Homo sapiens: one gene and its partners. The protein of the gene in region 3 purifies or fractionates together with the protein of the main gene of each other region. This does not show direct contact. Each region holds a gene or a part of one and is shown on either strand. Other genes may lie near its edges. The genes, in order: SS18, DPF3, ARID2 and SMARCA2.

Region 1 (7,724 bases), on a different chromosome or scaffold from region 3:
TCTCAACAATACAGAACCTCAAACAAACTGTCCAAAAGACATAAAAATAAATAAGCTTAAAAAGCTACATTGAGCAAAGAGATTTAAACTAGCTTCAAACTCAACATCTCCTTTTTATGGGCATGACTGTCACTCACTTTAAACTTTTATTTTTATGAACCAGCTAAGAACCTGACAACAATCATTTTACTTTTCAAAGGCTAATAGAGCACTCTAGTCAAGAAGGACATAAAGCTTAGTTACCTTGGTTTGGCTGCATACTCATATTTGGTCTGGGACCATAGTTTCCCATTGGTTGTCCCTGACTCATTGTCATCTGATTCTGTACTGGCATGCTCTGTGATGATGGCACAGAATGGTTGTAACCTCCCATGGATCCATGGCTACTTGAAGGCATATTCATGGAACTGTTTGTCATATTGAGTTGATTGGGTCCAGGTCCCTGCATAGGCATATGGTTAGGCCCTTTGAAGAAAAATGATCAGAAGCAAAATATGAAAGTTAAACAGATGGTCCATACAAAAGTACCTGGAAATAATTTTTTTTTTGCATTATTATAGTAATACCAAACAATAATTAATCGATAGCAAAGTAAATGGTTTATAGGAAAAGACAGCAAATACTGTGAAGTAGTTATTCCCATTTTTGGATTAAGAAATTGATGCTTTTGAAGTCAGGAGCACTCTGAAAAAGAAGGAAGGACTAGCTTCTTCATAAAAGAGCAAAACATATCATAAGGTTGGAGTAATTAACTATGAACATAAATGAATAGACTAACAGATCGATTGAACAGAACAGAGTCTAAAAGTAGACCCAAATACATAGCTGAGTAAATAATCACAGTAATATTAAGTATTAGTGAGCAATAGAAAACTAATTCAGTAAATGGTATTGTGACAACTGGGGAGCCATCTGGAAAAAACAAGTTGGATCACTATCTCATTTGTTCCACTAACTAATTCTAGATGAATAGAAAACTTAAACATTTAAAAAGAAGAAACCATAAAAGAATTTCAAAAAGGAGAATTTTAAAAATAATAATGGAAGGACCTTCTTAAGTATGCCAGAAAACCCTGAGCCATAAAACATTGATAAATTAGACTATACAAAATTTAAAAATTTGCACGACATAAAAAACTCAAAATTAAATAATAAAAAGGTAAATAAGAAAATATTATTTATAAGATAGATCGCAGACCCAGACCAAATTAATTACTTAACATATGAAGTAAGTAAAAGACCACCACCAGTAAAAGAATGGGCAAAGGACATAATGAGGGAATGACTAGTTCACACAAAAACTACAAAAAGGTTCATCAACATTAAAAGATTGATTGCTTCACTTAAAATAGGAAGGCAAATTAAAACTATGAGACCGAACTTTCACCTCTCAGATTCTCAAAAATCAAAAGTTCGATCTAACTATATTGTGAAGAAAGAAGCACTTTCATCCATTGTTGAAGGAACAGAAATCTTACTTATATTTCATGGGGAATCAAGCTTGTGGAATCAAGGGTGGGATCAAGCTTGAGGAAATTTGTGATGACAAACAACAATTCAAATAAAGTAGTTGTCCCTCAGTATCTGTGGGAGATTGGTTCCAGAACCACCCACAGATTTCAAAATCCGTAAATGCTCATGTCCCTGACATAAAATGACACAGTATTTCCACATAACCTATGTACATCCTCTCATATACTTTAAATCATCTCTACATTACATGTACTGCCTAACACAATGTAAATGCTATGTACATAGTCACTATACTGTGTTGTTTAGGGAATAATGACAAGAAAAAAAAAGTATGTACATGTTCAATACAGTCACAATTTGTTTTTCCAAGTATTTTCAATCCACTGTTGGTTAAATCCATGGATGTGAAATTCATAAATGCAGAACTGATGGATATTACTATTTTTACACAAAGCAATTTGGCACTAACTGTCAAATTTTAAAATATATATACCTTTAACCCAGCAATTTCAGTTCCAGGAATTTATGCTAGAGATATACAAATTTTTGTGTGCATGCGTATTGACACACAGAACACATATATATGTGTATATATATTTTTACAGCAAATTCATGACAGTATAATTCATAATAACAAAAGACTAGAAGCCTATGTTTCCATCCTAAATGTTCGAATAAATTAAACTTGTAAAAAAGAACATGATAGAGACCAAAAAGAATAAGGCATCTATTTACATATGGAATAAAATAATGGTCTCCAAGATATATCTTTGAGAAAGAAAAGATACATAATAGTATTTAATGAGTGCTATCATTTGTACTTTAAAAAAAAAGAGTAAAAATAAAGGAAATACACATGCATTATTTTATATAGAGAAAATCTCTCTCTCTTTTTTTTTTTTTTGAGACGGAGTCTCATTCTTGTTGCCCAGGCTAGAGTGCAATGGTGCAATCTTGGTTTACTGCAACCTCCACTTCCCGGGTTCAAGCGATTCTCCTGTCTCAGCTTCCCAAGTAGCTGGGATTACAAGTGTGTGCCACCACGCCAGCTAATTTTGTATTTTTAGTAGAGATGAGGTTTAACCTCACTGGTCAGGCTGGTCTTGAACTCCTGACCTCAACTGATCCACCCACCTCAGCCTCCCAAAGTGCTGGGATTACAGGCTTGAGCCACCATGCCCAGCGAGAGAATATCTCTTGAAGGACAACTAGAAACCAATGCCTCTCTAGAACTGTCTGGAGAGGTGGCGGCTAGGCATCCTTTGGTATCCTTTGATTTTGGTCCCATAGGCATGTATTACCTAGCTTTTAAAAAATCAATTAATTTTTTAGGCTGGACTCGGTGGCTCATGCCTGCAATCCCAGCACTTTGGGAGGCTGAAGCGGGTGGATCACCTGATGTCAGGAATTTGAGACCAGCCTGGCCAACATGGTGAAACCCCATCTCTATTAAAAATACGAAAATTAGCCAGGTGTGGTGGTGTGCGCCTGTAATCCCAGCTACTCGGGAGGATGAGGCAGGAGAATCGCTTGAACCCGGGAGGCAGAGGTTGCAGTGAGCCGAGATTGTGCCACTGCACCCCAACCTAGGCGACAAGAGCAAAACTCTGTCTCAAAAAGAAAAAAATAGTAATTTTTAAAAAAGGGAACCTGAGACTGAGTAGTGATTTGACCCAGATCAATGAGAACATAAGTAGCTCTAAAACTGAGTCTACATAATGAAATATACATTAAAAACCAAACTGAAATAGGAAACAGCCAAGATGCAAATTTGTGTGCATAAACAGGTTGGCTAAATGCTATAAGGAACAAATAAAGAAAATATAAGTTACTGGCCTTCCAATTTCTCCTACACTTAACTGTAACTCCGTAACTATTGTTAGGAGAAATTCTTTCTGTTTTTTTTTTTTTTGTTTTTTTTTTTTGATGGAGTCTCACTCTGTCGCCAGGCTGGGGTGCAGTGGCGTGATTTCGGCTCACTGCAACCTCCGCCTCCTGGGTTCAAGTGATTCTCCTGCCTCAGCCTCCTGAGTAGCTGGGATTACAGACGTGCAATACCACGTCCAGCTAATTTTTTGTATTTTTAGTAGAGACGGGATTTCATCATGTTGGCCAGGATGGTCTCAATCTCTTGACCTCGTGATCCACCCGCCTTGGCCTCCCAAAGTGCTGGGATTACAGGCGTGAGCCACCGCGCCTGGCCTGGAGAAATTCTTAACTATTGTTTCGGAAGCTCTATAGTATTCTGAACAACCCAGGTCATAAGTGGTTGATAATAACTAGCTTATAAAAGAATATACTTCAGAAGGCCTTACACAAAACCAAAATGTCATGTTAACCATAACTGTACTGCTGCTCAAATGCTTCTTTGGCCTTAGGCTTCAATGTTACACAGAGAATTTAAGTCAAAATCCTAATTCAAAGTACCATCATAAAAAGTCACAAAACTCCTAACTAGCTAACCTGCACTATCACTACCTTTCCAGTTCTAAAAACAGTGTGTCCTGGTGAACTAAATGTGGACTTGGCAAGAAGCTTTCTCTTGACTACAATATGACTACAAACTGAAAAGCAGTGATGTCTTTATTCCTACCTCCATACTGGATGTGTGCCATATATGTTGCAAGCCTTAGCAGGAAATAGGAGACAGCCACTGAAACACCACTGCCCTCCTATATGATCAGTCACACCTCAATCTTCTATAAGCCAGGCTACCTTACCTCTTTTGCTCTGTGCTCTCTTGTTTCCTTACTGCACCCATCATCCTTGGACACCAATGCTATCAATCAACACAATCGGCTACAGAAAACAGTATCCTAAAGATGCCAATTACTAATTTTAATAATTGTTCTGTTATTTTATTTCCATTACTGCTAGTTGTATAATGTCTTCTTTATCAATGAAAATAACTTTTGTCTTAGAAGGTAAAAATATTCTGATACCTAATGTAGATAATATTCTACCAAAAATTACGGCCATGGGTTGATGCTACTGTTACAAAAACAAAATAGTGTAAAGATACTTGTATGATTAAAATTTCAAACCAGCCAAAGGTAACTAAATCAGCATCCAATGTCTTAAAACATATCAACCTAGTGACCCTACACTTAAAATTGACAAATAGAAAAGAGAATGGCTCAGTGTATAAATAATGTAAGGAAGTTTACATTATTTTTCAGCCTTTAATTTTTGCTTTAAAATCAATTCCAATATTTATGTTATGCTATAAACCTATGTATTAAAAAAATTTAGATTCAGCTTCAATATCAATAAGGAAATACTAAATACACCAGCACTTCAGAGACTGTTTTCTTTCCCCATGTGTTTTTCCCAGTGATACTGTTTCTGAGATCAATCAATATTTAAGTAAATAAAAACTCAGGGAAATGTTATAATATCTTTTTTAAACAGACTTTAATTCTTAAGCCATGGTGCAACGCCTTTTTTTCCAAAAAGCTTCTAAAGCCAACTGTATTGCAGTTTCAGACAGACTAAATTTAGCCAGTTCTGTTCATCAGAGGAATGGTGTGTGTCAGCTACATCAAAGCCCAAGGGCAGCCTGATAAACACTGAATACAGGTCACGTAGCTCTGTAGCTAACAAACTCTAAGAGAGCTTGTACTCGGGGGCATTCAAAGCAGTTTTGTCATCAACAATCTAGTATCCCTTGAGCCCCCATGTCGTTTCAGTTGCTAAGCAACTCTGGTGTTAATGTCTTAGAGGAGAAAAACTTACCAGGCATCTGGCCGTTCATCTGGTTCTGCATGTGCGGTGCAGGAGGACCCCCACCTACCATTCCATCTGAAGGCATGTTGTGAGAGCGTGGAGGTGGGGGAGGGCCGCTCTGATTCATCCCTCCAGGACCCATAGGCATATTCTGTGTGGGTGGCTGAAAGAAGACAGTTTAGTAAAACAAGAGAAACAGACTAATATACGAAAGATGCATAGGGTAAAAGAGTTGCTTATGTTACTAAATTGCAGTAAGAACAAAAACACAAATGCATTTCGAATTCTTCTAATGCATTTTCATCATGAACATAGTTAATAACCCCCAAAACTTTAAAGCATATTTACTTTATAAAATCTCAGTAGTGAAAATTAAAATGTTAACATTCTATACAAAAAATTCTCATTTATTTATATATTAAGCATTTCTAATGTGTCTATTATTATCTAAATTATGTGAAAAAAATTAAATGTCCTTTCATTATTGATGTATTGGATACACTTATTAATGATGGATTTTACCTAAAAATGTACAGTAACAAAAAATGATGAAAGGACTCTAAGTCCCAAAATGTGCCATATTTTACACTATTTCGGGGTGGAGGATAGTGGCAGCAGAGGAATGTTTTAAAACATGAAGACAACAGTTCAACATTTTTGTGCCGACTACTGCTATAGATTGGAAACATTACTGATGGCCTCCAAGGGTACAGAGACAGCTGCCTCAAAAGGATGCCCTTGGCAAATTTCCTAATGCAATTTTGAAGAAAACCACTGACTAACCTTCAGAGTTCACAAAAGGGCAAAAGGAAAAACAGATATGAGGTGGTCTGCCACACCTGGGTCCCTTCTTAGGGATATTTTGGTGGAGAAAGCAAACGGTTAGTTTCGCTCCAATCCCCCATTTTTAATCTTGTAGGAGGAGAGGGAGGCATTATTCTTTACTTCGATGTTCTAAATGTAATGTCCATTCCTGTATTATCAGTTGTTCTCTTCCTCCTACATTTAAAAATGGCCAGTTACTGTATGCCTTTCCATTTTGTGAACACAATTCTCTTTGGCACACTTAATAGATACACATTGTTATTTGGCCATCACATTTAAATACTCAAACCTCCAAACAGTTAATAATCACTAACATTTACAGAAATAAACAAGTCTACTCTAATAGCACACATTTTAAAATCAGAATTTTAATTTCTTCACAACTAAATCCAGATGAATGCTCTTATTTTCTCTTAAATTCTCATATTATTTCTCCAACTTGTATTCTTTAAACACTTAAAAACCTTGTTCAGTTTTCACCAAAACAAACAAAAAAACAAACAAAAAACACTAATTTGAGTCATATTATCTAACTTTTAATCATCCTTATTTATCATCCTTCAAACCTGGCTACCTTAACCCTCTTCTGTCTGAAAACAGAAATCCTCCTTCCTCTATTCTTGTCCAAATTTTCTGTTAAAAATTCATGTTCTCACTCTTAATAGTGAGGTCATTTTCTTGTAATTCAACTAATAAAACATCATTACTGTTACCACCATGCTAGAATAACTTGTATCAAACTAACCCTCAGCTAAATAAAACTCATAAAATCTAGACAAAAAGTAAAAACTGTTTGAAGCCACTAAAGAGTGACTTACACAAAGAGGAACAGAAGGGGCTACAACTCCTGAAAGAACGGAAGCATATAAGACCAGCTCCACAATTATCTTGGCTTTTTCCTTGAGTTTGCTGAGTAACAGGGAAATACAGCTCAAGTAGAAAGTGCAGTCCAATTGGACTAAGGAAAAAAAAGAGTCAGAATTTTTGACTATCAAAGAGCTGGAAACTAAAGAATAAATTTCCAGAGAGAAAGGACCACAAGAGGGGAAACATTCAAGAAAACTAGTCGAAATAGCAGGTAGGAGGCTAAAGAGCTCAGCAGAGATTCCAGCTGCTGCTCACTGATATGGAGACAAAGACTGGAGTGTAGGCCCCACCAAGTTAGAGGAGCCTTCATAAATAACTCCAACTCTCTGTTGAGACTACAGAAGGGCCAGCTACTCCTTAAGAGTAAGGTCGAAATTGAAATAGATCAGCCCTAAAAAGTCTTATAACCAACCTTTAATAGATTCAAGGTAACCTCCTAGTACTTCACATACCAAAGGAAAACTTAATTCTCTTTGGAGCAAAGTAACACAAACTAGAGCTTCTATAATTGTTCAACCACAAGGTCTAACACTCTTAAAAATTGCAAGGCTTTCTAAAAAACAAAAATAAATGACCAACACCCACTTTGATAGCTGCAATAACATAAAAATTAAAAGTCCAGAAAAATAACAAGTGTTGTGAACAATGTATAGAAATTGCAACTCTCATATATGCTGGTGGAAATGTAAAAGGGTACAGCCACTGTGGAAAACAGTTTGACAGTTCCTCAAGAACTTAAACAGTTACCATATGATCTAGCAACTCCATTCCTGGTACATACTAAAAAGAATTGAAAACACACATTCACGCAAAATTTCTACACAAATGTTCAC
Region 2 (7,724 bases), on a different chromosome or scaffold from region 3:
AAAAAAGAAAAAGAAAAAGAATCCATTCTTGCCACTGACCTCCAATGCCAACAGCTCACTCTCCTTATTCACAAGCAGATCTAAGCCCCTGCCCCGCCTCCACTTCTTCTCTCTCCCTCAGTCATCTCAGTTGAAGGAGGAGCCAGAGACCAGGCAAGGACCAAAGGCCCAAGTTCCCAGAAGAGCACCCCACTCTACCAACCGCGCTTCTGCTTCCTCTGGTTTGGTGGGTGAACTCAGGTCAGGGCTATGACCGGAAATGAAATGAGGGTTTCCCCTGAGCTCACATTCTCACTTATTTCAAACCCAGACAATAGGAAAATCCCACTGAGATCCCAGGGCTATTTACACAGCCTGGATGAGTAGACCTTGCATTTCCTGAGAAACAATGATTAGATGTGATGGGTAATGCCAGAAACATTTATTTTTGTTTTAATATTTAAAATAATGTTTAATATAGTAGGTATTATTGACTGCCTGAGGAGGCCATGATCAGCTACAGGAAACTTTTAGTTCTCATAGTAACACCTCACATTTGCACTTTCCACCTTCTGAAATGTTTCCACATCCATTATTTCATGTGGGCCGCTGCGGGGAAGCCAGGCTGGAGGAAGGGGAAGGGAGGAGAAGGGAGACACAAGCTCTCCTGGCTGTTTGGAAGGACAGGCCTGACTTGCTAACTCCTGCCCCCCAAGCTATCCTGTCATCACCGTGCTTCCACCCACCTCCTGTTGTCAGACATCACATCTCCATCCACCTAGGAAGCCTTCACTCCAAGCCTCACCAGGTAACTGCTAGTGCTACAGCCCCTGGAACTGCCTCAAACCCAAACCCTGACCCCCACGAGGAGTCCCTGCCCTCAAAGGAAGGGGGATATAGGCTGGGCACGGTGGCTCACGCCTGTAATCCCAGCACTTTGGGAGGCCGAGGCGGGCGGATCACGAGGTCAGGAGATCGAGACCGTCCTGGCTAACACGGTGAAACCCCGTCTCTACTAAAAATACTATATATATATATATATATATATATATATATTAGCCGGGCGTAAGGCGGGCGCCTGCAGTCCCAGCTACTCGGGAGGCTGAGCCCGGGGAATGGGGAATGGCGTGAACCCGGGAGGTGGAGCTTGCAGTGAGCCGAGATCGCGACACTGCACTCCAGCCTGGGCGACAGAGCGAGACTCCGTCTCAAAAAAAAAAAACAGGAAGGGGGATATGAGGGGAAGGCAATCCCTGTGGCTGGGGATGGGAGAATTGAGTCTCTGGGTTCCTAGTTCCCAGTGTGTTTATCCCAGAACGCAATGGACTACCAATAGAGGGAGAGGCAGAGAGGTTGAATTCTGTAATACTATTAGGTTTGGGTTTTTTTGTTTGTTTAGTTTATAAGGTGGAGAATGCCTATATTATCTAGAAATGTAGCCGCTAATTTTTTGGGTTTGTTTGTTTGTTTGTTTGTTTGTTTGTTTGTTTGTTTTTTGAGATAAGGTCTTGCTCTGTCACCCAGGCTGGAGTACATGGAGTACAGTAGCGTGATCACAGCTCACTGCAGCCTCAACCTCCCGGGCTCAAGCCATCTTCCTGCCTTAGCCTCCCGAGTAGCTAGGACCACAGGTGTACACCACCACACCCGGCTTTTTTTTTTATTTTTTGTAGCGACAGGGTCTCATGATATGTCCAGGCTGGTCTTGAATGCCTGAGCTCAAGGGATCCTCCTGCCTCAGCCTCCCAAAGTGCTAAGATTACAGGCATGAGCCTAGCTTAGTCCCTAGATTTTACAGTCCAAAAATGAAGGAGACCTAGGCATAGTGAAAACCCAAAAGAAATGAAAATGGGGACTCAAAAACAGCCAAAAGGTGAAACAACCCAAATGCCCATCGGCAGTTAAACAGGTAAACAAAAAGTGGGCTATCCATACAATGGCCATAGAAAGGAATCAAGTTCTGACTATGCTACAACATGGATGAACAAACATTGAAGACATTATGCTAAGTGAAATAAGCCAGACACAGAAGAACAAATATTGTATGTTTCCCCTGATATGGGGTGCTAAGAATGCAGAATGGTGGTTCCCAGGGATGGTAGGAAGCAGGGGATGGAAAAGTATTGTTTAATGCATACAAAGTTTCTCTCCGGGATGATGAAAAGGGTCTGGGCAGCTGGGCACGGTGGCTCATGCCTATAATCCCAGCACTTTGGGAAGCTGAGGCGGGTGGATCATCTGAGGTCAGGAGTTCGAGACGAGCCTGGCCAACATGGTGAAATGCTGTCTCTACTAAAAATACAAAAATTAGCCAGGTGTAATGGCGCATGCCTACAGTCCCAGCTACTCGGGAGACTGAGACAAGAGAATCACTTGAACCTGGGAGGCGGAGGTTGCAGTGAGCCAAGATCGCGTCACTGCACTCCAGCCTGGGTGACAGAGCGAGACTCCATCTAAAAAAAGAAAGAAAGAAAAGGGTCTGGAAACTGATGGTGGTGATGGTTGCACAAGGTGGGAGGATCCCTTGGGGCCATGATTTCAAGACCAGTCTGAGCAACATAGCAAGACCTCCATCTCTACTAAAGATTAGAAATAAATGTACTTAATGCCACTGAAATGCACACTTTAAAATGGCTAAAATGGTACACTGTGTGTTATGTATATTTTAGCACAATAAAGAAAAATTGAGGGAATGCCTCTCTCTGCTGGAGGTCAGGGTGACCATTTTGTTTTCTCTTTAAAGTCTCAGAATTTACACACCAGCTCCTGTGTAGACTCTGATGAGTTCTGCAACCTCCTCCCCCTTCTCTTTATGCTTGCAAAAAAACTGCCATGGAAGCTTTCCACCAAAGAAAAGCCTGATAATAATGTCCCCACTGAAATCTGAGATGTTCTGGAGACATGTCACTGAAGGGGAGGCATGAAGTCCAGTCTAGTCTTGGCTAATACCCACTCAGGTAGGGGCTAGTTCCACACAACTGCTGGGCACCTCCATTTCCTCAGCAGTAACACAGGTATGCTAGAGGAAGCTCAGTGAGACATCAGTACAGGTCCACTTACTTCAGCTCACTAAACATCCAGGTATCTGTGGCTGCCCAAATTAAAATAAAATAAGCACTTTATTTTCAGATTAATTGGGATAGGTGCCATGGTAGAGGAGAAGGCCAGAGAGATCATGGACAAATAAAGTCCAGACCGGAGGACTGGCTGGAAAATTGGTTACCCTTCTGCCTCCAAACACACACACACACACACACACACACACACACACACACACACACAAAAGGAAGCAAAATACAGATGTTCTCAGTGATTCCAGTCTTTTAACCACCAAAAACTGAGTGCTTATCCACGTCAAAATAGGCCAATTGGTCTTCAAGTTCCTCATTCTCATCAGCTTCTGGATGGGATGCTAGTGAGAAGAAAATCACTGAAAAGGAAGAGCCAGAGGAAAAGCCCACATTCTAAATGGCCCACCACCTGGTCCTCAGCCTCAGACCTTGAGAAGGGATAGGAAGTTCCACCCAGCTTAGAACCCCAAGAAGGGAGCACCATGTAGCAAGACTGAATCAGAGAATAAGAAACTGTGGAAGTCTCCAGTCTTAAATGTTCTCTTTAGAGCCACACTTTAAAAATAAGAAAAAATCAGAACTCTGGCCCCTAGCTGTCCTCTCTGTCCTAATCCACCATAATAAGAGCCAGAAAGTTGTTGGCTTGAAAGGAATTTGGGGAATCAAAGTACATCACCATCATAAAGACAAGGAATATGCGGCTCAAAGTTCTGTGTCCCAGATCACAAGCTAGTTGCCTGTAGCTCTGGAAGCGGAGCTCAAGGCTTGGGATTCCTCTCCCAGAGCTTTTTCTCCTCCATTACTCTGAAGTCACTAAGGCTACAAAAAATCAGCCACTGGTGAGAAATGAACATGGAAGAGGAAAAGAGGTTGAGACGGGTTTCATCAATAGCAGGTGAAAGTGTGAGGATGGGAAAAACTTTCTGGTGGAGCTTCCAAGTGCAGATCATTCAAACAGCAGATTTTCAAGGTGAATAACAACAACTAAAAAAAAACCTTTTATCAGCAACCTGAGATGATCACAGTCCCCAGATTCAGAGAGGGAGGAGAGGGTGCAAAGTGGGGATTAGACATGTGCCAGCATTGTTCCGCAGGCTCAGAACTGAGGCCTGGCTGGTGAGGACTCAATGCGGGCTATTTGAACCCCATTATTAGGAGCTCTGAACCTAATCCTCTCACCCCTCCCTGCTTCCACACATTGCCCCTAAATTGTAACCTCTTCAGGGATTCTCTCCCTTCCCTTGCCACTGCCTGCCACACTAATATTCACAAACACACAGCCTAGAAATTCTCCAGTCTGCTCCTCTTCCCTCTGCCCCACCAACACCTCCTAACCACTGCTTTTAAAACTCTAATGCAAATCACAGGCTTCAAAAACCTTCCCTCAGTGACAGTTTTACGATGCTAGCTCCATTCATCCATATGGTTTGACAGACTGTGAAACACCAGTAACCGGACCAATAAGAAAAACAAATTACAAAAACACTACAACACCTCATCTCTCCCCAGTCACTCAAACAACTAGAAAACTTTGGAATTTGCAATGGATCACAATATCAGTCTCTCTTGCAGTTCAACAACAATCTTTGCAGAGTTCCATACCACACAGTGGTTTTACCCACTCCTCCATCCTCCCCCTACCCAAGGCCACTCTCCATCTTTCCTTGTTAACTACCTTCATATTTAAAGACTATTTAAAATTAGGGCCATGCTTACAAATTCCCCTGTTGGGTCGTAGCTGGGCAAAAAATATTTCAGTGGTTGTGGGATTTTTTTGGCCAGAGGTTTGCAACATTTGGCTACATTTCTGTTTTCTAGTGACTTTCAAAACACTCAAAAACCACAAAAGTTACTTTGCAGAGGTTGGGATAATAAACAGGCCTGGATTCTGGTGCCTCTTTATGACCCAGCCCCCATCGCCACTACTGTCAGCATAGCTGCCTTAGAAAACTGAAACATCAGCCTCAGTTTCCATTCTTTTTCTGGTGCATGATCAAAACAAAACATGCTGACCATGACATTTTATTTTTTGCATTGATCTGAACAGATGGCTCTGAAACAGCTTTAGACATTATGGTCTTTCTCAGATGTATCCAAATTCCAGCTACCTGCATGATTCCAAAAAGAGGAGGATGAGAGGTCTCCAACTCAGCTGTCTCTGAATTCAAGCCCACCTTATGTGACTAAGCAGCTCCCATTCAACTGGCAGTCTTCAATGTCTCCCGGGAGGCCTGCAGACCAGGCTATTTTCAGAGGTTTACCCTGTGACAATGCCTCCACTTGGGTTCTCGCAGACATTAATCTCCATCATAGGTGTCTCATCAAAAGCAGACATTTACCCATTGAAAAATAATGTGTGCTAATGAGGTTTGGAGAATTTAGGGCTTTTTTATAGTGGCAACCAGAAGCAGATGGAGAACAGGTTCTTGGGAATCTGTTGGCTTACAACGTCCGAGGGTCCTTTTTCATAAGAAGCTAAAACAATGTCCATAAAAGGCAGCAAGTTCACAAAGTCCCGGCCTCAATGCTGTCTACTTAGTACCTACCCACATCCCCCCAACCTCGACAGAAAGAGCTAAGAGGAGATTAGAACCAGGAATGTGACCCCCACCCCTTCCCCTCTGATATCTAAACTGAGTGCCACAGCAAGAGTGAGGTCTGGCTTCTAACTTTCACATGCACAAAACCACTTTAGATTAGAATACACTAATACAGGTCATAGAATGCACAAAGAGATCTAGATTTGACGTTCATCTACACACATGACCTGCTGTTTGACTTGGCTAAGTAAGTTTATTTTCTTCTCCCAGAGTAGTGTTCTTAACAACAAAACAGGGACATAAACACATACCTCCAAGCAAGGTTAACTCCTTACAAAAGAAAGTTTCAATACAATCACGTATATGTGTGTGTTCACAGTTATAAGCATGACAAAATAGTTTATGGGTCTCTTTATAAATAATTACTTAAGGTAAAGCCCTGTTGGTTCATATGGAATTTAATAATAATAATTTTTTTCTAAGTAGGCAATTATAATAATAGACATATATGTGTATAATCAAGTCTGGCAGAAGGTGGCAGACATTCTCAGTTAAATGCATACCAACCAGGATTTTGATAATACAAGAGTAAGTTGTTTAAAGTACTGATTGCAGATTTGGGGGAAGGTGGTTTATCTGAACTAGAATATTAAGATTCAAATTTATATTAAAAGCATTATGTGGCCAGACATCGTGGCTCACTCCTATAATCCCAGCACTTTGGGAGGCCAAGGCAGGCAGATCACTTGAGGCCACGAGTTTGAGACCAGCTGGCCAAGATGGAGAAACCCCGTCTCCACTAAAAAACACAAAAATTAGCCAGGTGTAGTGGTGCGCGCCTGTAATCCCAGCTACTCTGGAGGCTAAGGCACAAGAATCACTTGAACCCAGGAGGCAGAGGTTGCAGTGAGCCAAGATCCTGCTGCTGCACTCCAGCCTGGGCAACAGAGCAACACCCTGTCTCAAAAAATAATGATAATAATAATAATAATAATAGCATTATGTTTCCCAGGTATGCACAAATCAACCAGAACGTGACTAATCTACATGCAGGCCTTTATCAAATCCATATTTATGTTACCTGCATGTGTTTACTTCACTACCTGGGCCTTATCTCGCTTGTATATGTAAGAAATGAGGGTAACTCTCATACATCTTTGCTCAGACAATGTAGCTGCTAAATTAAATAATATGTAATACACATTTACACATCATACATGTCCACCAGTGCTTTTGAATTCTATTTGTCCAGATGTGACTGCTTGGTTGTGGGGGCCACCTGCCGTGTCCCCTTTGTGATCTGATCAGTGCAGGCGGCTCCTATTTCTGCCTCTAACACCCTGTTGGGCAGTAATAAGATGTTAAAGGCGACAACAGAGAGAGAAGCTGGGCTGTCAGCTTCAGAGAGGAAGGGGGTGAAGGGTACAACAAGGAAGAAAAAGAAAGGGAGTTGAGGGGAGATCAAAGACAGGCAGGAAGAAAGCCAAATTGCTAAGAGAGGAGATGTGGCTTCAGGAGCTTGGGACCCTAAGGAAAACCCCAAAGCAATGAGATTCAAAATTGTGCCATCCCATCACCCCAGCTAATTGAATTATTGAATGTCCCACGTGGAAAAAGCTAGTACAGTGAAAAATAGCCCATACTCAGCGTAGGCAGAGCCCTGCATAGGTGCTGCTGGAAATCTGAGCTTGTTTCTTCCCAACACATTAACTACCACCACTTTATCCCCCCATCCTGAGGAAACCTTTGTGTGACCATTTTCTGTAGGAGACGTCCGTGGTGTTGGCTTTTTTTTTTTTGGAGGGAAGAGAGAGACTCAGAACGCACACAGAGAAAATGCTAATGTCGTTCAGCTCTGTTTCATTGTCAGGAGGGACACATGAGGATAAAAACATAGCTCTCCAAACCATTCTCCCCGCTACCCCTCCTCCCTGCACCACCACCATCCCTTCGGCTGGATGTGTCTCTGCACTTTGTTCTAATTTATCCCATGCATAATTTATTCACGTGTGTATTGTTTCCTGATCAGCAACTTTTAAAAACAAATGAAATATATAAGATGTTTTATTAAACAAGTTATTTTTAAAAAAATAAAGGCAGATGGTGTCCCTCTCCCAATAACAACGTGTGTGCT
Region 3 (7,562 bases):
TGATTATGCTAAAACTATTAGTATGAATGTAAACTCTTCAGAAAAATATACATCTCATGAATCATGTATATTCTATAGTACTTTCTGGTTATAAAACTTAAGTCAATCAATCTAACAAATATGAAGCAAAACTTCAAAAATATGTATTTCAAACAGTCCAAAATTCAAATGCTTTAAACTGATAAAAACATAAAACCAGAATATGTATTAACATGTTCCTCTCAATATCATAAATAGAAATGAGCAAATGAATGTCACGATGAATATAAAACTCTCTTGTTTCTCACCCCACTACTAACTCAACGGTTTTGGAGGTTAATTTTGCTTTTTGATTTAGCCCTTTAATTTAAAATGTACTCTGACACAAATGCCATCACACACACACAATAGATGACAACCATATTTAATATTTTCTAGACTTCCTGTGTAACTCAATAACTACTCCACAAAGTTCTGCGAACTCCAGCTTCAAGCCTGAAGTCAATCTAAGATAGCCAATAGAAAGTACACCTGTGCGATTACTGCATTTCCTATTTCAGAATGCTGAACGTAATACACAATAACTGAGTGCATCTGAAGCAATAATAAATGCAAAACTCAAATTATGCAGAAGCCACCTTACAAAAAAAGGCCTGTACTATCACTATTAAAAAGCAATAAATACAAAGAATATCATTTTAGTTTTTAATAACACCAACTAACTTAGGATCCTCTAAGATAAGCACTTTAAAAATAAAACACAGCATCATGATAAATTACAGTATGAAAGTATTCCTAGAAGAAAAACTAGAGGCAAAAAAAAAAACGCTAAATCACAAAATATATCATCTAGACTGTATCACATACCAACTGAATAAGAAATTAAACTTTGCCGAATAAGCAGTCAAAGAAGAAGAGGGAGAATGAAAGAAAATCCAGATTATAGTATCCCATTTCATAGTATCCCCATTTTCCTAAAGATATAATAATTTAAATTATCTAATTTAAATTACTAATTTAAGTCACTGGAAATTCAACAAAAAGTAATTATCAAAACAATCCTGGTCACCTAAGCCACCAACATGTTATGCCATGTAGGAATATTCTACTGAAAAACCTATTCAATGACACTGTTCCAAACAAGAAGTTTCATTAAAAAAAAAAAATTCTTAAAGCCAGAATTTTTAAAACTAAAGGAGTTTCCAAAACAAAGAAAAAAATTTTCCCAAAGGTTACAAAGTTTCATTAACTATCTTAAGTCTTTTACTAAGCATCACCTTTCTGCCCCTCAGTGGGTATCAAGCGATGAATAACAATGTCACAAAAGAATGTTTACCAAGATTGGGGCTGGGGTGTCACCTGTAATGATTTTGTATGAAAAATGTAAACGATCCTGAAATTGGTGAGGAAGACTTTCACCTTCCTACAATCTCACTTTATTTATATTAAATGTGTCTCAGTCTGAAATGAACAAGAGCTTAAGAACTGTTTGGTGTGCAAGGTTTGCTTTTGTTTTTGCTAAAAACAAATCTCTCCATAAGTCCCTTATTTCCAAATACTATGGAAAAGTCACTACTACTCACCGCAAGTAATACTGTTTTAAAGCAAAGGCAGCGTTAGAACAACTTCTGGGAAAGTTGAACTCTTCAACAATTTCTCCCCACTGATTCTTCTCAGAAACCTGGTAAAACACAGGCACAGTTGTCTGAACGTGAACAATCTAAGAAAATCTTAACCTAACTATGAAATAAATACCCATTCTACAGAGATCTGTAGATACCTAAGGCATCAGTGGGTGTTTCGGATCGATCGGTAAGAGTTACTAAGCAAGGGCTTCTTGAATCACTGTGTTTTCACCAGAGAGCCCTGTATTTAATACCACTTGTTTTGTTTGGGGGTGGGGGGGTTTGGTGGGTTTGTTTTGTTTTTGAAGCCCGGACAATAACCAATCGCAAGTCCCTCTGTCGCCCCCTTTTAAATCTCAACGCGGTCCGTTTACACTAAAAAAAAAAAAAAAAAAAAAAGTTCAAAAGGATCAATACAGTTCCGGACAGCGACGTCCGCGGGTTGGGGGGGGGGCCGGGGCTGGGGCCGATTCCGATCCCTCTCCCAGATCTATCCATCTCCATAGGCCCTTCTTTGAGGCCTACAGCTTCTGCCTAGCCTTGAAGCCTAAGATGGCTATTTGGAGACAGGTCCTGGTTTCTTTTGTTAGCTGTATAAACCGAGGGCGACGGGGCCGAGGCTGTGCCCCCGGCTGCCGGGATTATTTCGCAGCCGATTATCGATGTTAAACCTGCCCGCGCTAATTTTGAGTTGCACGAAAACTGCTCTCAGAGTCTGTGTGTCTCTGTGTGTCTCCGCCTGTGCTAGAGCGGCAGCGGCGGCAGAGCTGACTCGCGAGCGAGCGGGCGGGCGGCGCGGGAGCGGGGCGGGCGCGGGGCTCAGGCTGGCGCCCCGCACGCCCGCATTCCCCGCCGCGGCGCTCAGACCCCGCCGGCCCGACCGGGCACCGGGCAGGGCGCGAGCCGGCGCCGGGCCGCCCGCCCGCCGGAGCCCCGCGCCCGCCGCGCGCACGCGAGCCACCAGGCCAAAAACAGCCCCGCCGCCGTCCGCCTCCGTGCCACCGGCTGGGAGCGAAAAGAACGCCTTTTGCCCCCGCGGGCCACCCCCCCAGCCCCAAGCGCCCACTCCGGGGTCAAAGGAGACTTTTTGGAGGAGGCCAGCGAGAGGGAAATACAAATTAAAACTTCCACTCACCTTCGCGAATCCGCCTAAAGTAGTGACTCTGGTGTAGAGACCGTGAAGATCCAGCTCCTTCCCACCCACCGCAGGGATTTTTTTAAAAGGCGACCTGCGGGAGAGAAAAAGCCCCGCACTTGTCAGCCGGGACCCCGTGCCCGGCCCGGGCGGGAGAGCCCCGTTCGCCCCGGCTCGCCCCGGCGCTGCCCCCCCGGTTCTGCTCTCACCCTCTGCTGTGGTGGAACTGCCGCAGCTCGTCCAGGAAAGCGAGTCCCTTTCTCCGCTCGTCCGGAGGCGCCTTCCCCGTCGAGTTTGCCATTATTTTTTCAAAGGAGGTTTTTAAAAAACCCAGATCGGTGTTTTAAAAGCGCCCCCCGCTCCCAGCGCTTCCTACCAGAGCCCGGAGCCCATTCCTCGGCCGGCGGCGGCGGGGCTCAGTCATGGGCCGGCGGTGGCGGCGGCGGCGGCGGCGGCGGCGGCGGCGGCGGCGCAGGGAGGGAGGGAGGGAGGGGGAGGAGGAGGAGGAGGGGAAGGAGGGAGCAGGAGGCCAGGGGGAGAGGAGGGAAGGAGGGAGGGGAATTTCTAAAAAAGTTTAAAGAAATCGGAGCGAAACTAGAAGGGCAGGCGACTGCCGGATCCGCGCGAAGCCGCGGGGCGAGCGCGGCCCCCACCCCTTCCTTCCCTCCCTCCCCGTGGCCCGGCTCTCGCCCGCCTCTCAGCGCCGCCGGCTGAGGCAGCTCAGCCCGGGGACGCGATTCAACATGGTGCTGCTGCCGGGGGCGCGCGAGCGGGCGACGGGCAAGGCGAGCCGATGGTGAGGGGTCTGGGCGGCCAGAGGCCCAAGAGTTTCGGCGGCGGCGGCGGCGGGGCTAGGGCAGGCGGGGCTGGGGGTGGGGAGGGGGAGGTCTGTGTGGTGGTTTGTGGAAAGCGCGGTGACAGCGTGTATTTCGGCCCCGGCTCCGCGGGGCCCTCGCACACATTCACGCGCGGCCTCGGCCGCTGAGGCCGGGGCGTCCCCGGGCAGAAGCACCGGCGGCAGCTGAGCCGCTGCGCGCCGCCCGCCTGCTTCCCTCCCCGCCAGCCTCCCTCTCTGCCGCCGCCACGGCCTGGCAGCCAGTGCCACACAGCGACCCCCGAGGGCTGGCCGCGGCACTGCGCCTGGCTCCACACCGCCCCGGCAGATCCTCGCGGGGAACAATAGACTCGACTCGCCGGGCTTAGGGTTCGTCTGCAATGTGCCGCACATTTCACACGCACACAAAGCCGGCGGAAAGGGGGGCGGTGCGGGGAAACGGCCACTACCGGTTGTTCCAGGGTTAGGGGTGGAGGCGATGTTCGCGTCCCCGGCCCGGCTGTTGGAAGGGCCGCCTCGGAGTCCCCGCCCGCCCGACAGAACCGGTGTGGCGCTCTGAAGGGAAAGGAAGCTCACCGGGGTAGCCCCTCACGCTACGCAACATTCACAGATCGGAATAAAGTCAATTTGTTACCTTCTGTTTTTGTAAAATCTAAAGGAATCGGCTTTTATGAGCCGTATGCTAGTATTTTGGGGCCTGGTTAGCACATTTTCTATGAATTATCCACACGCTAACTTTAGCAAACTATACGTTAAATACAATGTGAACTGTCTGTCCTAGTTCTGTGGAAATAGAGTAATGCTCTTAATTCATCTTGCCGCTGGTTGGCTTCACATATCAAACTGGAGTATTCTATGAGCAAAGTTATGCAAACTAACTAAACTGGTTGGGAAGCAATCTATCGAACTTCGACAATAATAATTAAGGTTTACATTTTTATAGTAAGGTCTCTTCAAGATTGCTGCGTTTAAAATAAATACCGAATAAAACGTTTTTCCTTGCTTTCAAATGTCTTAAATGTAATCCTCGTTTAAAATATTTTGAAGGTTAAAAAAACCCTTTGCTTAAATGAGTCAAAACATCTCAACAAATACTACCACCTAAATTTGCATTTACGAGGGGTGTTGGAGCCGGCTCTTTGCTACAAATGTTAATTAAGATTACAGTACGTGAAACGTATTATTATTCCCATTTTAGTGACGGCCACCACGGGCAAAGTCACTGCCTAACCCAAGGTCACAGGGTAGTAGGGGTCTGGATGGGTTATTTCAGGTAGTCGTTCCAATGGGAACATTGCTTTGGAGGTGAAAAATTATGTAATATAGTGCAGCTTGCTTCCGGTGCTCACTCTAGGAAACGGACTTATTTCCCAACTAAAGTTTGTCTCTTAAGTGGGGTCGGAATAAGGTTGTGGCTAGGAAGATCCTGACAACCCAGGGCCAGTGAGTGTCTCGGAAGCCTGTGAGGGGCGGAGACCCGGCCCGGGGAGGTGGAGAAGCTCGCCGGCCGCGGAAGACTAGGGGTGAGGCTGCTGCGAGGAAGACCCGGTCAGCTGTCCCTTCCCCCATCGGTCCTCTTAGGGGAAGTGGAGATGTGGGCCTCGGAGCTGCGTGGCCCGGGCTGTGCGGATTCCCTAAACGCCGCACTTGCGCACAGCCCCTTACGTAACCGTCAGTGCCGGGGATTCCCTGGAGGGGGTCATTCTATTCAACCATTATACACACCCCGGGCTCCTGCCGCCGCGCCGCCGCCGCCTCACAAAATGGCGGCGCCCATAGAGGAGACCGCGGCCGCCTCCCCGGCCCCATTTTGTGGGAGGCGAGAGATCTGTCAACATGGAAAACCTCTGCTGAGGATGCATCCGAGTTTGGAAACCCCACTTAAGGGATGGAGCCTGGGGGATCACATTAAACGGAAAATGCCAACGACTTCTACCACCTCTACGCGTTTTTAGTTTTTCATTTTCTCGAAGGAAGCGCCAGAAGCCTGTGGAGTAATTGTAACTAGAGGGAGAACGGAAAGCTGAGGTGACTGCTCCGGGGACTTGGCGCGGCGCCTTGGTGGCTTTGGTTGCTCTTCCACGCTCCCGGCAGCTGACCAGAATCTCTTGGAGGGTCTCCTGGGCCACCTCGGCCGCGCCAGTCGTGCAGTGAGACTTCTGTAGTTTTAAAATGCCACAGTCCACGGCCCGGTCGGCACCGCTCGCCTGAATCGTGGGCTTTGGGAACCTTGGAGGCTGCTGCTCCAGGAACTCGCGGTCGGCCGGGAGCCGGGGAGCTTCGTTGCTGGGAGCGGGCGGTATTCGCGGACTCCGGCGGCCCTGGCGGGTCGCGGCCGGGATCCGAGCCGGGGATGACGATGCTGATGGAGCTGATGGGGCAAGAGTGGGAACGGAGGCACGTACACTGAAATTTAAGTCATCCAAGTTGGGACTTAAGATAGCAGGTTAATATTGTCTCAGGCGAGACTTAGAACGTCTTTTCTGGTATCCCAGTCTGCAGTGGGCAAATCTATTGTCTTTATTTCTCATTTAAGGGCAGAATGGAGGGATGACATATTTTTACTTTTCAAGAGGCGGTTGCCACTTTTAAGTCACTGTTGTGTGTGTGTGTGTACATACACAAACATACGATAGTGTGTTTTCAGAGCAAGTATCAAAGGCTAAAGACTTGGAGTGATACTAGTGTTTAAAAGCCTTTTTAAAAAAATTAAGATGTGATGAGAAACTGGAGAATTGACTTTTAAAAATTTCTTTTCTGTAGAAGAGGCTATCTTCAAAATGGAGTCCTAAAGTATATCTGATGGATAGAATTTAAATTCTTAACACTGTATATACCCTGTGGTCAAAAGCATCAACGTAAAACTTGATGTTTATCAGATTACTTATGTTTCAATTTTCCTGTGGTTAGAAAAATTAAGACAGAAGTAAGCTATTAACGGTATTTGCTTGTAAGAGTAACGTTAAAGGTTTAAGGAAAGGTTTGTTGAAATCGATATGCATCACACGAATCATTTATTTTCAATGTTGTTTTCCAGTTGCAGCAATCATTTGTGTTTACATGACTTTGAAAAAGGGTTTAGTTTATGTTGATTTTGACCCTCTTATTTAATCTCTAGTGCAGAAGTGCAGCTTTCTGCAGGCTGCGCCTCAATCGCTAAGTTCCACTCTCCATCCTCTGCCGCGCTACTCCTGGCATGTGGATCACCAAGATACAATTTCTGGTCCTGTCTGTTCTTATTGATGTCCTTTACAGTTAATAAATTTGATTGCCACTAATCAGTCTGTATCTCTTGCAAAAACACCACATTTAGCATCCAAGTAGAGTCAGAGTATGTTTTTTATGAGATTGTACTAAAGTAACCTTCTATTACATTTCTTATTACCATATTGCATTTCCTATAGTGGGCAGCATAGAGCAGGTGGATCCTGACAAAGTAATGTTAGAGATGTGCTGACAGCTTTACAATAGATATTCTCCAACTAATTTGACAAGATATAAAATAAAATGTAGTTCGTAGTTTTCAAGCATTAATGGAAAGTGTTCCTATTAAAAAATTACCAATAACAGTGGAAATTGTTGCAATCCAATTTGTATAGTTTACTGTTTTGATGACAAAGCGCTTATGATGGGAAAAATGTAGTGTTGCTTTTGTAACTGCAAACGCTGCACGCCGTAATTAGAGGTTTATGTTATTTTATTTGAATTTTTCATTCTTACCATCAGTTTTCATATTAGTCAGGAAATTGTGATAAATTAAAAATTCCCTCATTCAACTAAACCTTAAAAAACTGTACCCAGTTTCAAATCAAGCATTATCAGGTGTATGATTACAACAGCTGAAATAAATTGAGGAATTGGTATGCCAACTCAGTGGAGAAATTTTGGGATTTTAGGTCACTCTAAGATTTAAAAAAATAGTTTGATTCGTTAAACAAGGCTATTGAAGTTAAATTGATATTTCCTTAAAGATGATTTTAGAGAAAAA
Region 4 (7,724 bases), on a different chromosome or scaffold from region 3:
CTCACATAATAACACACAAAATCTATTTTTATTTTGTGTTAGGAGAAGGAGGGAGTTTCCCGTTGTCACAGAAAAGAACGACCTGTTCCACAACTATGTGTCTGTGGCTAAAAACATAATGACAAAAATGTATCTGGGGAGAGGGGGGCACAGCAACCTCCCCATACACATGCATTGCTGGTCCCCACCCTCCCCCAGACCAGGACTCCCCGAGGGCCAAACCACTATGTTCTTAGGCAAGAATTTCTCAGCAGTATACTCTGTCTTGATTTCGTCCTTACTTCCCACTTTCCTACATTCACAACTAGAGAGTGTGTGTTTTTAAAAAGAAGAGGCCCCAGAGGAGCTTGCCAGAGCTCCAAACACCACAGTCATCCTCCCTCAGCCCAAATCTCCTCTGCCCTTAGCTGAAAGGCTCAGCACAGCCATCTGCATATTAAAAGGAGTTCAACTTCATGGAATTTTAAGGGTCACCACTCCAACCATGACAAAACTTGTGTCTTACAGTCTAATTGTAACCAACAGAAACACCAAAGACCCCCACATGTGGAGTAATATTTGAACACACCTACATGTGTTTCCTAATAATTCTGGTGATTTGAAGAGACATTTTGCCACAACGCCATTGAAAAGATGAGGGCAATAAGGCAGAAGGGGAAAACATGGCTTGCCCAAAGTAACATCTGCAACAGGAGAGAAACCGCAGGCAGAATCTTTTATCCCTTGACTCCCAGCCCAACACTGAGCTATGACACGGATCTAGCAAGCCATGTTTCCACCAGAGTTTTCACCAGGCCAGAGCAATGTGCAGGGGTAGAAAGTAGAAGCCAAAGAAAAAAAGGTCAGAAACAGTGGAAGGGATATCTTGCAAGGACTAGGCTTTGGTTGTGATAATATATTAACTTACCACAGGCTAGAGAAGTAAAGAGAAGCCCTGGAATGTGAAAAGAAGACCATGTCATCAACTGAAAAGGTCGATGATGTTTTAGTTACCATACCGAGTATCTACTAGGTACAAGGCATGCAGGCGGTACAAAAATGAATAGAAGGCTTACCCCACAACTCTGGAAGTCTGATACGGAAATCAGACTTGTGCGTAAGTAGCAACAAGATAAAAATATTGAAAGATCCTGCAGGACACGGAGGGGTACAGCCAAACTATCCAACACAGTCATAGAATGGGAGACATTACCTTTAGCTCAGAGGTTACAGGAGAGAAAGGAATTAGGTAAAGTGTAATGGAGAAGGTAGCATTTCAGCAAGGCCTTCAAGTTTAAAAAAAAGAAAAAAAGTTCCCTAGAAACTTTTGGTTTCTAGTCGCAGAGTTTGGGGCAGCACACCAACCTTGACAATATCTCTTAAATTGCTCTTCACCAAACTTCATAAGAAAGCACAAGGAAATCTTGGATCTCCAGCCTGTCTTTTTTCACAGCTCACTTTACAGAAAAACTTGGAGGTCCAGGTTAAAGGTGGAATATCAGAAATAAAAGTTAGGCCCAGTCCACATCTCCAAGAATATCCCAGTCTTATTAAAGTGTTCTGGCTGTTACAGGAGAACTGCAAGGTTCAGGAGATAGTTAAGATAAGAGTTCTTTTTATGTCTGTTTGCTGATTCAGAACATCTCCCCTGACCTGAAGGGCTGCCTCTTGTTTTGTATGTGGCTTTCTCTGTAAATGAATTGATAATTCACCCACAAGAAGTAGCAACATCTTCAGAACTGGGCCTCAAGCACTGTTATTCTTAATGGGGAAGCAGTGCGGGGTGGGTAAGGAGAACAGCAATGCAGATAAAGGAAATAAATCTACCCGAAGTTTCCTTTTTACAGGCCAAGGTTGTCGGGATAAGCGGTGAAACATTACCAAGGCCCACACTGCTTCTTGGTCTGAGCTGTGCAACTTTAAACAATGCATAATGTGATCTGTCAGATACAAATCACACCGGGTTCTAAAGTTAACCTTATAAGTTGCTCCATCAAGACCCTAGAAAATCACTGAGAACATTTCTTCAGCATTCTTGGGGTTATTCACAACACTTTCCCATTCGTTTCAAAGTCAAATATGTTTTTTAAAAGTTGTTAGATTAAAACTTTGCTCTGTTCCTTGGGCTTCTGTGAACTCTCCTTCATCTTTCAATCAGGGCAACAAATTAGGATGTGGGTGAGCTGCTACCCTCACTTTAAATAAACTGCCTTGGGAATGGTCCTTGCCCAGAGTCAGACCTGGCAAAGGCTGTGAGGCAGCTCTGTGCACAACAAAAGATAACAACAAACTCGGCAGCAGCTAATTAGTCCCCCATGAACCTCAGACACTGCCTTAATAGGATCCTGGCTCTTAACATTACCACCCTTATAGATACCATGAGTTGCCATCTCAAAAGAGTCTACCAGCGATGCAATTTCATGGCCTCTTCCATGAGGACTGACAGTGATCCCACAAAGGAAAAATTGTTTTAAAAAGGGAATTTACGAGAAAACCTAAGTGTTAGAAACCCTTTAGAGCAAAGCATCCTCTACTCTGAGACTCATGTCCATTAGTAGTTATAAAGGTAATCACAGATGAAAATCACTTTTAAAATTCAGTGGAACCCAAAGGGCTGGGCAAACTGGTCAAAACAAAAGCTAACAAACTGAACAAAAAAAAGTTAGTTTCAAATCATGACACCCTGAAAGGTAATATGTCACGTATATTTACACATATGCCTGTCTCTCCTAGGTTAGGCCCTTTTGCAAAGCAACCTCATTCTGGATGTTGATAAGAATCAACAACAGCCACTTCCTTTTCTGACTGCCAAGATAAGTTTATTTATACTTTAAACATATAAAAAGAAGAGTCTGAAATACATACTTTAAAAACCTGTGGTTAAAATGGCACATTTTTACTGAAGAGTAAAACTCAACCATCATATGCTGAATGAACTAAAGTTCTATCATAGGCACTCATTAATGTCAACTGGCCCTGACTTTCACAGTAGCAACAACAATTCAACAATGAACTCCAAGTTCATTGCAGTTAAAATGGATAATAGCCATTAATGATGTTACTATGCCTTTTAAAAAATCAACAAATGAGTTCATTTAACCTCTCTGAGTTTCAAGCTCCTTACCTACAAAATAGGCATAACAGTAGCTGACTACAACTTCAATTTTGATACGAATCAAATAAAATATGAGATATGAAGACACCTTGTGAGCTACTATATGCTCGCATTATTGCCAGGATCCTTCTAACAGCTTCAATTCCCACTCTGGACTTGAATCCACAATTTGCCAGATTAATCTAAAATATTGCTTTGTTCATGTATTCCCTTGTTCAAAACTTCTGAGACAAGCCTCCAATACAGATTGGATAAAATATTCATGCTTTAACCTGCAAGTCAAGTCTTTCCACAATCTCCGACTTTATCTTCTGAAAATTCTCCCCAACTGGAACTTCTTGCTCCAGGCAACCGGTCAAAACAGGTACATTGGTCTTTCCACGTTCCTTCAGGCCGGGTCTCTGTGATCTCGCCGGGTCTCTGTGATCTCGGGGCTTTCTTCTGATCTGGGATGCTCAGATGCCACCACCCCCACCTCTGCCCTCCCCCTACAGCAACCTTATCCCATCTCAAAGACCTTATCTACCCCATCAGCTCAAGAAAGCTCACCCTGATCTCTCTCTCTGTATCACATGGCCCATGCAGTTTACCATTTGTTACTTGTATTCAATATGCTATTATAAATACAATATTAAATGTTCAGGTACATTCTTTAAGACACATAAATTATCAATTACAGATCATCTATTTTTTACAGAATTTTGGACTCTGCTTAATGGTCTTTTAGTATAGCACAACAGCAAGCCACAAAATAATTGTGACTATTTGCAAAGCCATTTATTACATGTCCAGTTCAACAAAGCACAGGGGGGAAGATGGGAGAGGGCTTTCCTTCTGGACATCCAATATCCATGTGTGATAAAGCATCTCCCAGTGGGATGGTAAAAACTGAAATATACCACATCAAGTAGGTAAAGAAATATATAATCATCCTGAACCAGAAAAATACAGTTTAAGTGCAAACTGATACAGAATTTCCCTTGGATAACCTGTAAGCCAACATATGACGTTCCTTTTTGGTTAGAGATTTTTATCATTTTTAAGTAATTTTGAATTCCAAATTCTGAGTTTAGTTGTTTTTGTTTTTTTTAAAGGAGGGAGTTTCAATTATATTTAATGGTTTTCAAACTTTAAATATTATTTCAACTTCTGTGGGTCCCATTCATCAACTTACAAAAGGGCCAGCCCATATTTAAATTAGGCCAGTTTCTAAAAAGTTTCTAAAATATTACTGCTTGCATAGATGTAGATGACATACTGGCATAAGATTGATGCTTAAATTGATACTAATCCACCTAAAAATACTATAGAATATTGTGGTTTTAAAAACTGTTGTAAATCTTACAGGTATACGGCCAGATTACAATTGTTCAAATATTCTGGAAGTCGTAGCTATCTAATAAAATATCCTAATTCATACTAGGCTTCAATTATATAATAATGTATTACAAACCCAGAAGTCCAGAAGGACATTATGTCAGAGTTTCAGGCCAAAATCTTGTATTCCATATCTAAACCATCACTCCAAATGTGTAAATTAATGAGGTGTTTATATCAAACATTCAAAAGACCAGCTATTTTGTTCCTGAATTTCATTGGCTCTATTGTATGTTTTTCTGAGGTACAATTATTCAAGCATCTTTGACGATATATTTATAACTTTTACTACTTAAAAGCTCTCTTTAACATATCCTACACTTTCAAGGAAAAGTGCTATATTAACATGGGTAATAATAAACTCATAATAAACAGTAAGAAAGCTGCAGTTTTGCCAGCCCAGGTTGCAAGATCCCATTTAACTTAATGATAAATATCTTACGTAAATAAATATGCTCTCTTTCATAATGACTCTGGCAGAACATAGTTTTAGACTCCTATAGTCCCTAGTAAGTATAAAGTCATAAGTTTCTATATAGAAAAAATAATCACTCCAGGCCTTCCTAAATATGCTATCAAATAAATTACCACCATGTGTATTTTCTATTCACTACTTAGCGAATGACCCATGGCTTTATTAACCGGCTAAAGGTTAGAGTCCCCTAATAAGAACGCTTCCAAAAATGACAGAAAATTCACATCCTCTATTGGCCAAAGACATCTCCAAAACACAATATTTAAGGGGGAAAAAAAAACAATTTAGAAGATAATTCTTTTACATTAAAAAGGAGAAATCAGAAATAGCCCCTAAATGTGGCTTTCATACTAGGGAAATTTTCTCATCTGTTCACAAGAAATACAGCAGAAAAGAAATGTAACTCATATAGTTTTCTAAGGTAACTCAAGTTAACCAAAGAATTTGTCCCTATCGTCCCTTAAATCATCTTGACCAGAAACAGAATCAAATCTTAAAGTGGTTAAATCAGGTCCTACCAACACTCCTTCCACTTGCAAATGCTGGGAAACAGTCCTTAGTATTACATATGTGATAATTCAGTTGTCCTCATGGCACCATGTCAAGATGTCATAAATAGTGATTTATTATTTCTCTGGGGTATCAAAAAGCTGCTGACCTAGAAGAGTTTGACAAAGGCCTTGTTTACAAAGGAAGATTTCTAAAGGAGAAAAAAAAAAAACAAGAAAACACTGGAGGACAGCACCACTTTTATAATTTATAAAACTCTTCTTTTTATGCTCTTGCTGTAATACATAATAATAAATGTCAAAATATTACAACAATATAAGGAGCATCACAATTACCTTTTAGAAAAGGATGTGATATGCTTTTATACTGGCCTGTAGAATGATTTATCTTAAACTTAATAAAAGAAAAAAATTTTAAATACTTATCTGCACAAGTGTCACTTTCTAGTTATACCATGTCAGGAATACTTTAAATAGAATTCAAGCATTAACAATATAATACAAGCCGAGGCACTTTTTTTTTTTTTTTTTTGTCAATTCTAAGCCTCAGGTGTTGGTCAAAGCACTTTTCAAGAAACTTGACGAGAAATGCTCAAAAACCACTTTACAAACGAACAAAAGAAAAGATCTAAGGCTGCTTTGAACATGCTCTTGTGGTGAATATTTTCTGTGAAACACCACAGTGCACCTAGTCCTGATGCTGGGCTGTTACTGATATAAGTCATAAGAGAAAGGCTGCATTGAAGGAAGCCCTCCCTCCCCTCACCCTCTTCAAGGGTTCTGATACCCCACATTCCTCATTCATTTGAAATGTTCTTTACAAAAATGGCATCTCTCTGATGCCCCCAAGGTAGACGGACCTCTGATCTACTGGGTTGTTTTTTTTTTTCCCCTCAGTCTACCGCAATAAGTATCTTTTGGACCTAACAGGTGTCTCTAAATCCCCTCTTTACAATAGCAAACATTTGCATTGTAAAGAAGCATTTGAGGAAAAAAAGAAAGAAAGTCCAAGAGAATAAAAGAGCAATTAGATTCCTCAAAGAAAAAGTGTGTCTCATTTTGCATAACAATGCAGCAACTAGGATTCAAATCTGCCACGCCTCTTAACACTTCACCAGTGTGCTAGAGGTAGCCTGGAAGCCTAAAACTCCAATGCTGGCCAACAAGCTTCTGGTTGTGGCCCCCCTGATAACAGATGGAAAATACTACTGAAAATATTTGAATGTGAATATGTAAGTATACACACACATAACATTGGGTATGGCTTTTTAAATTATTATTAGGGTTCTCAATGGTTTCTGAGTCTTTGGTGGTTGGATAGAAATTTTCTGCTACTCAACGCCCAAGCAACAATCTCATTATTTATGCAAGCATTCTGTTCAGACAAGCAAGGCACACAACCAGGTGTAAATTTTAAGTCCTTTGAAATGGAAGTTTGAAATTCGATATTGGTAACGCAGAAATGTTAAAAATAACCGCTCAGTGCAGTCAACAAACTGTGTATCCTTAATGTCTTCCTTGAGCTCTAACAGTACACATACAAAGTCATACATGCCTACATAATGACCAGAAAGGAGACAATGATGACACCTCTCCAAAAGATTACTAGCCCAGGTCGCTTTGCTTTTTCCAAAGCACCAACCTCCATCAGGTTAGGGAGGAGGAAAAAAAAGAGACAACCTTGCAAAACTCACCCAAAAGTTATATAAACAAAGGAGGGGAGAAGCCCAGTCTAGGCTTTGCACCCATGTGCCACTAAAATTACATAACACCCGGTGCAGACATTGAATAAGGAATGGATTCTGCACAACACCCCCACTCCCTCGATTCCCAAGCCTTCCTCATTCCCTTAAAAAATCCAAACGCCTAGCAAGAGCTAGTGGACGACTTTGAATATTTATTTTATTGCTGGAGTAAAACCTGCGAGAGTTGGAGGTACGTTTAGGCCCGAAGTTTGAATGTGCAACAGCCCCGGGCGCAGCGACTCACACTCTCCGGACCCGGAGGAGAAAGAACTGACAAGCAACAGCGGCCAGCAAGGCCTTCTTCCCCCTCATGGTGCCTCCCGCTGGAAAGTTTTCCACGCAATCGATCGGAGGACAAGGAGCCCATTTCCCCCGCCTGCCTGACTTTGCAGGAAAGGCGAGCCGGGAGACCGGAGGGGGCTGGCAGGGAAAGAACTGGAAAGCTCCGCACACAGCCGGCGGCAGGGCTGCGCAGGCTCCTTACCTGGAGGACGCGGAACAAAAAGGGGCGCGGGGTTCGCGGA

What was found.
Region 1: the proteins of ARID2 (region 3) and SS18 purify together in Homo sapiens (affinity purification with mass spectrometry; 4 studies listed by BioGRID and IntAct, with this or other methods). This does not show direct contact.
Region 2: the proteins of ARID2 (region 3) and DPF3 purify together in Homo sapiens (affinity purification with mass spectrometry; 4 studies listed by BioGRID and IntAct, with this or other methods). This does not show direct contact.
Region 4: the proteins of ARID2 (region 3) and SMARCA2 purify together in Homo sapiens (affinity purification with mass spectrometry; 2 studies listed by BioGRID). This does not show direct contact.

Annotation. Positions count from the first base shown.
Region 1 is NC_000018.10:26,052,381-26,060,104, forward strand, and holds part of SS18 (protein SSXT), read right to left. Parts: intron 5,363-7,724; coding exon 5,209-5,362; intron 466-5,208; coding exon 244-465; intron 1-243. UniProt on the Homo sapiens protein: Appears to function synergistically with RBM14 as a transcriptional coactivator. Isoform 1 and isoform 2 function in nuclear receptor coactivation. Isoform 1 and isoform 2 function in general transcriptional coactivation.
Region 2 is NC_000014.9:72,883,937-72,891,660, forward strand, and holds part of DPF3 (zinc finger protein DPF3), read right to left. Parts: intron 1-7,724. UniProt on the Homo sapiens protein: Belongs to the neuron-specific chromatin remodeling complex (nBAF complex).
Region 3 is NC_000012.12:45,725,315-45,732,876, reverse strand, and holds the start of ARID2 (AT-rich interactive domain-containing protein 2), read right to left. Parts: upstream 3,172-7,562; 5' UTR 3,041-3,171; coding exon 2,949-3,040; intron 2,834-2,948; coding exon 2,740-2,833; intron 1,661-2,739; coding exon 1,563-1,660; intron 1-1,562. UniProt on the Homo sapiens protein: Involved in transcriptional activation and repression of select genes by chromatin remodeling (alteration of DNA-nucleosome topology). Required for the stability of the SWI/SNF chromatin remodeling complex SWI/SNF-B (PBAF).
Region 4 is NC_000009.12:2,017,760-2,025,483, reverse strand, and holds part of SMARCA2 (SWI/SNF-related matrix-associated actin-dependent regulator of chromatin subfamily A member 2), read right to left. Parts: intron 3,540-7,724; exon of another isoform or gene 3,367-3,539; intron 1-3,366. UniProt on the Homo sapiens protein: ATPase involved in transcriptional activation and repression of select genes by chromatin remodeling (alteration of DNA-nucleosome topology).